Linked DNA regions of Homo sapiens. The protein of the gene in region 1 interacts with the protein of each later gene in a pairwise test. Each region holds a gene or a part of one and is shown on either strand. Other genes may lie near its edges.

Region 1 (3,500 bases):
AGCCAGAATGGTCTCGATCTCCTGACCTCGTGATTCGCCCACCTTGACCTCCCAAAGTGCTGGGATTAGAGGTGTGAGCCACCACACCTGGCCCTCATGATTATTTTTAACTTCACTGGGCCACTGCAATCATTCCAGTGGTGCCCCTACCAGGGTTAAGATGTGCTACCTGCACAAAGAATAGTCTGATGACAGCCAGGTGCTGCCCCTTACCTGCCAAAGAGCCAACATTGAGGCCAGCCGTTGCTCCAGCTAATGTCTGCAGGGCTCCAAGTGAGGCTATGGGGTTGACAGAATTACTGCTGCTAGAGCTAGGTGAGGACCCTGCTATTAGAAAGCAAGGAGTTAAAATTCAACCCATCACTGGCATTCTCGCCAAATACAAGAAAAAGTGTCACTATCCAAGTATGCTATTTGTAAAGAGGTTTTCAGTTACTAATTCTAACAACTGTCCTTGCAGGACAGAGACAAATAATGGCCACAGCACATTGAAAATCAGGAAGATTTCTCTTAAGTACAAAAGATGACATTTGAAAATTTGTTGCTCATAATCTGACCTCTCTGGAAACAGGTGTTAACTATTTTCCCTCTCTGGACTCTGCCTTTAAACACAAAGCATCTGTCCAAGGCACATAATGGCACACTGGGTCATCCTCATGCTTACCTGAACTAGTGAGCACGCTGAGGGGACTGCTGGATGTAGTGAGAGCATTGGTACCACTTGGTGTGTTCTGAGCTGCACTAGCTGCAGCAGCTAGTGCAGCCAAATTCTGTAACTGCATTGCATTCAACCCTACAACATCCAAAGCAAGAGATTAGCCAGCAGATAAGGGTGCTTCATATCCATTCCAGCAATGACAAGCACACACTGGCAGAGGGCTGGTCCCTGACAAAGAGGAACTGTTCTAGATAAGCCTTACAAACAACATTACAGGGCTCCAAAAATGATTCATGTATCACTCATTAAGAAACTTGAAATCATTTCCTCAGAGAAGAGATGGCTAATCCAATAGCATACCATGCCAAGTGTACATTAATAAAGGTGTGGGCAATTAGGAAACCAAGAAAAACTGCCTACCATAGGGCCAGGAGCACAGGAGAACAATGCCAAAACCTACAGCACAGAATGGGACTGCATCCAGGCCCCTCACTCACACTTTACAGGGGATTCGCTCTCTGTAATAGAGGGGAACACGCAGAAAACATGGCAGATGCAGAAGGCCCAGGAGCAAACAAGGGAGAACACAGCAGAGCAGCAATGACACAAAGAATAAAGACACTGTCACTTGAATAGCAGATTCATCACCAGAAAGAGGAGAGAGGAAAAATCACTGAGTGAAAGACTTCCAAGTAGAGCCCAGACAACACAGTTGAAAGGGGAAGAAGGAATCTAAACTGTGCTGTCGCTGCTGCAAACCATTTACTAGACAATGGAAAGATGGATGGGGTGAGGGGTGGGGGGAGTGGAAAGAGTAAACGAGAATTAAAATACAATACAGATTACAATCTAGCAACTTTCCAAAAATATAGCCAACTATAATTTCCTGAGACAAAGTGAATGACTATCAAAAATTTTCAAAGAGCAAAATGCAGTTCACTGAAAACTATGCCTTTCTCAAATGCACATTTGGCCTAGCCTAAATCCAATGCAGAGGGTGTAGGCACAGGCAGCTTTGAAGCTGTCCCATGCCCTACCCCCAACCGACTCCTGATGGGCCCTAGCTCAGGTTTGTTGTGGCACTCCATTTAAGTTTTCTGTGTACGATAATAGCAACAACAAAATAGGAATTCACCTAAGAAACAAGAAGATACACAGGTAAACCAAATGCCTGGGTTCTAGAAGCTTCAAGGTAGGGCATTTGCATGGAAGCCATCTTTGGCTTTTCTGCAGTCACTGGAAAAGTCACTTTATAATGGAAATAAAGAGTTCTTGCAATTTTTTCCCCTTATCAGAGAACAGCCTCAGTCTATAGGAGCTAAACAGCCCTTTTCCATATTCTTCTTCAACAGTGACCTAAAAGGTTAGGAGGCACCAGATAACGTCAGAGCAATGTGGCATCAACTAGCCATAGAGCCACTGTATAGAGACAAGAAAATTGAGTCCTGGGATGTTTATCCTAGGTCAGGTTTACATAATAAGCAAAAAAATGTTTTCACAGAAACGATGCCAAACTCCCAAGACTGTTGTTAGCTGGGTCTGCTGGCCTGGGTGCTGCTGCTCCTCTGCAGCAGTGAAACACTTACCTCCCATTGGGTGGAGGCTGCTCAGGGTGTTGAGGTTCCCAGAGGAGGCAGTCTGCTGAAGGAGCTGCAAATAAAGCTAGACATTACACCAAAAAACAGAACAAGAGTGAGAGTGAGGGCTGGTTCTGCATCTGGGATAACTCTACAGCACAGCAAAGCGAGAGTGCAGAGGCCCCCAGAGAGAAGAAAGTCAAAGACAAGAACCCAAGCCAACACAACAGAAACATGAGGCTTATGACAGCACAGGACAAAAAAAAAACACAGCTAAAGCACTGGCCCAGAAGATAGTATGTTCACTGAATACTGAGCCAAGCTCAAGTCCCTGGGCAGCAGAATTCAGCACAGCAAAGGACAGAACTACAGCAGGATAATAAGCTAAACTTGAGGAGCTACGCAGTCAACTGTGATTATTGTCTGCGAATGAATGAATGCCATTTCCAGCTACCCTCTCCCAAGTTCTCCTTAGTTAGGTCCACACATCTCACTCTGCAGATTGTTTCCATCTGGATACTCAATTTCTACTTCACACAACTATTTTAAATATCAAATCTAAACATTTCATAGTATTTCTTGGAGTTACCCTTTATTGGTCACAATGGACCACATGACTAATAATCACTCCAGCTACACATCTATCCAACCTTATTTACTTCCTCCCCTCCAAACTGGTCTTCCCTGTTGCAGATGACCAAATGACTGATGGATTAGTCTATACCAGGTTCAGAGTACGTTCTCCTTCAATGATGGTCCCATGACAAATAAAGTAAGAGGGCCTGTCCCTGAGTTTGTGGCATTAGTTTACTTTGTATATTGGCAAACCACAACCTTCATCTAACCAGCTTGCTGAAAACTTTTGCTCCAACTAAACCCAATTAGTATTGTTTATGGAAAATTGGTATTCTTGTACAGGATCCTTTTATTCAACCTGTTTCCCATTCCTATAAACATCTGACCTGGTTTCTCTGTCGCCGCAAATCCTTCCAGGCTAGAGACCATGGATAAGTTTCAGGAGGTCTACAAACCTCCAGGAACAGAATGGGGGAAAAAATGCACCTATACACCCTTTCCCCCCGCTTCTCAAAGGATAAAAAGATAAAAACCAACTCCTCCAGGACAGTAGAGCCTGGCTAACTCAAGTCCACATAGTCCAGAAAGAACCTCATAATTAATGATGATGTACTATCACACAGTCCACTAGCACCCACGTCTACACTTTTTTTTTTTTTTTTTTGAGACGGAGTCTCGCTCTGTCGCCA
Region 2 (3,500 bases), on another chromosome or scaffold:
GCTGCTTTGCAATCCCTGGCCCACAGAAACTGCAAAATAACAAATGGTTTAAGGCAATGAGTTTTGGAGTAATTTGTTACACAGCAATAGGTAACCTATACAGCAGTTTCTACCCTCATGGAGTGCATATTCTAGTGGGGCTGACAAATACACAAATTGATATATATTATATCCAAAAATAAGTGCCACAAAGAGAACTAAAGCAGGGTAAGAAAATAGAAAGTTGGGCAAGTCATTATTCTTCTCTGAGTCTGTTTCATCATTATAAATTCTATATAATGCCATAGCCTACCTCATGTGAATGCTTTGAGGATTACATGAAGAAAAATGTGAAGTGTTTTGAGTTTTGGTTTCCTACTTTATACAACAGGGGTCTTATATACATGGTTATGAGAATTAAATGATAAATTATGCATAAACGTTGTAAACTGGTGGCACGTGCTGAATTTAGCCAGCAGAAATGGTTCGTATATAATGGACAAATATCTATTACATAACTACAGTGTGTTAGGCATTGTGTTAGACATTGAAAAATGTTATTTTGCCTTTCCAATAGTGAAGTGAAACCCACCACAATTCTAAAAAAAGGATATATTTGGATAAGACAATAATATGAGAAGCCAGAGTTGTAAATATTCTTTTTCCCATCCTGTACATTAAGTATACTAGAGATAATTATCCTTACTAACTACTTTTGGGAACAAACAGTAAAATAATAAGCACAATATTTATGAAGATATAGTGGTAATATGTTTCCCCCAATGGATCTTCAGCAAATAGTAAAGGTCTGAGACCAAAACTGATGTTGGAAAATTGTGAAAATCACCCCAAATAAAGCCCAGATGTGAATAACCTAGAACCTAGACTGTTAAATGACAAGAGACCTCTGAAAGACCATCCAATCTCATAATCTCTTACCTGGACTACCACAATGGACTTTTAATTGGTCTAAAATCTCTACCTAGAAGCTAGAACAATCTTTTAAAATTATAAATGAGAGCATAACATTTCCTGCTTAAAGCTCTCAAATGGCTTCCTGGTGGATTTCATTCTAATTACAAAGTCTCTGCAAAGACCTATAGGATCCCACATGATTTAGCTGCTGCCTTTCTCTCCAGTTTCATTTCCTACTAGTTTCTCCCTTCATTCACCACACACTCAGCCACACTAGCTTTCTTTCTAACCCTTGAACATGTCCAGCTTATTTCCAACTCAGGCCTTCAGTAACCTATTCCCTCTTTATGAAATGGTTTTCTCCCAGCTCTCATGGCCAGCTCATCATCATTCAGATCTCAGCTCAAATGTCACCTCCTCAGAGGCTTTTCTTGACCATCCTTGCTGAAGTAGTTCCCCACTACTGAGTCACTATTGCAATATGCTGTTATTTTCTGCATAGCATCTATTTCTATCTAAAATTATACTGTGCATTGTGTGTTTATTGTCTCCCTCAACTAGAATGAAATCTCCAAGAGATTAGAAACTAGCTTTGTTTGTTCACCATTGTGTCACCACCACCTAACACAGTGTCTGGTGCAAGAAATTTTCCCGTAAGTATTTGTTGAAGAGGTGAACACAAAAACAGTAAGGGTCTCTAACACTCTTGTGAGCCATCTGGATCTTTTTTTTTTTAATTAAGAAACATGGTCTTGCTCTGTCGCCTAGACTGGAGTGCAGTGGCAAGACTACATAGCTCACTGCAGCCTCAAACTCTGGCTCAAGCGATCCTCCCGAGTAGCTAAGACTACAGGATGCAAGCCACAGCACCCGGCTTGAATCTTTATAAATTTCCAAAAACAGTGACCAATTTCTTCACAACGTGAGAACTGGGAGGCATCTTTTGGCATAAGGCAGTTGTGTGAAAACAAAGAACTTCTATAGATAAGCATAGACAAAATAATAAAGTCTGATGCTATTACATAAATGGCAAAATAGAACAAAGTCATTTTAAAGAATGACTGCTATTAAAATTTTTTAGTAGCAAGTGAGTAAATGAGTGAGCAAATGTAAGTACTTAAAGGTTACTACCAACATAAAAACATGTTTCTGCAGATTCAGAACAGCATAGTGGCTGTAAGTACAAACTTTGGAATCAGACAGATTGTGGATTAAGTCTCAGACCTGCCTCTTATTAGCTGTGTAATCTTGTGTAAGTTATTACTTAGCTACTCTGAACCTAAGTTTCCTCCTTTATAAAATGGGAAAGATAATATCTACTCCACAAGGTCGCTGTGAGAGTTAAAGGATATACTCTATGTACAGTGCCTGCGATAGAATAAGCATTCAATAAACATTAGCTATTACTATATTATTGTATAGTAAATCTTACAGTAAATCTTTTAGCCAATCTTCTTGAAACAGTGCTTTACATTTGTCTATTTATCATTACTTCCTGTGTTTATCTCCTTCTATTAGAATCTAAGTGTCATAAACACAGGGACATTTTGGTTTACCAGTACATCCTCAACAACCTAGAACAGTGCTTAGCACATAAGACAAACATTTCTTTCTTTTGTGTGTGTGTGGGGGGGCCTCTTCAAGAGTCAGCTTGATTTTTTCTTTTTTATTACTTGAATGAATAATCAAACATATTCCTCAATGCACAGCAATTGGCTTTTGCAAACACCAATTCACCAAACCTTCTAAAAAATATTAAATCCAACAGACTCTTTGCAGTCCTTATCATATTAGATCGCTATTGCATGTGACATTAAGTAACCACTCATTCCTTCTTGAAACTCATTAACTTCTTTGGCTCCCATGACACTACTCTCTAAGTTTCCTCGTCTTTGGTGTCTTTCCTAGGTTCCTCATCTGCCAAGACCTTAAAAATTGGTATTCCGGTCAGGGCACGGTGGCTCACGCCTGTAATCCCAATACTTTGGGAGGCCAAGGCGGGTGGATCACGAGGTTAGGAGTTCGAGACCAGCCTGACCAACATGGTGCAACCCTGTCTCTACTAAAAACAAAAATAAGCCAGGCGTAGTGGCGGGCACCTGTAATCCCAGCTACTCAGGAGGCTGAGGCAGGAGAATTGCTTGAACACGGGAGGCAGAGATTGCAGTGAGCAGAGATCACGCCATTGCACTCCAGCCTGGGCATAAATAAATAAATAAAAATTGGTATTCTGCAGTGTTTTTTCCTTGGCCCAGTGCTCTTCCCTCTACACCAGTAATTGTCAAATGCAGAAATACCAATGGGGGCTTTTGCCAAACTATACTTTCCAGGGTCTGAGAATTGCTGCCCCAGGCAATCATTATTACGGGAAAGAATTTTATAGTACTCCAGTATGCTGGGAAGGCAAAAAGGTTGTGAACTCCTCTACCTACTCTCCTTGGTCAACTCTCTCCACAGTTATATACCACCTGTGTGCTAATGACTCCATGGGCTTTTATCTATATCCATGAACCCTCTCTTGAGTCAGGGCTAGAATATCCATATGTATCCACTGGATTTTCCTCATGCACATCAAACTGAGTATCCAAAACTAGGATGTCTCCCCC

Evidence for each region. Proteins that work in one complex are often made in the same cells at the same time.
Region 2: the proteins of CELF1 (region 1) and SLC25A14 interact in a two-hybrid assay, tested with the Homo sapiens proteins (one large-scale study listed by IntAct).

The regions. Positions count from the first base shown.
Region 1 is NC_000011.10:47,476,633-47,480,132, forward strand, and holds part of CELF1 (CUGBP Elav-like family member 1), read right to left. Parts: intron 2,321-3,500; coding exon 2,245-2,320; intron 794-2,244; coding exon 665-793; intron 328-664; coding exon 214-327; intron 1-213. UniProt on the Homo sapiens protein: RNA-binding protein implicated in the regulation of several post-transcriptional events. Involved in pre-mRNA alternative splicing, mRNA translation and stability.
Region 2 is NC_000023.11:130,367,419-130,370,918, reverse strand, and holds part of SLC25A14 (brain mitochondrial carrier protein 1 isoform 1 precursor), read right to left. Parts: intron 1-3,500. UniProt on the Homo sapiens protein: Transports inorganic anions (sulfate, sulfite, thiosulfate and phosphate) and, to a lesser extent, a variety of dicarboxylates (e.g. malonate, malate and citramalate) and, even more so, aspartate and glutamate and tricarboxylates.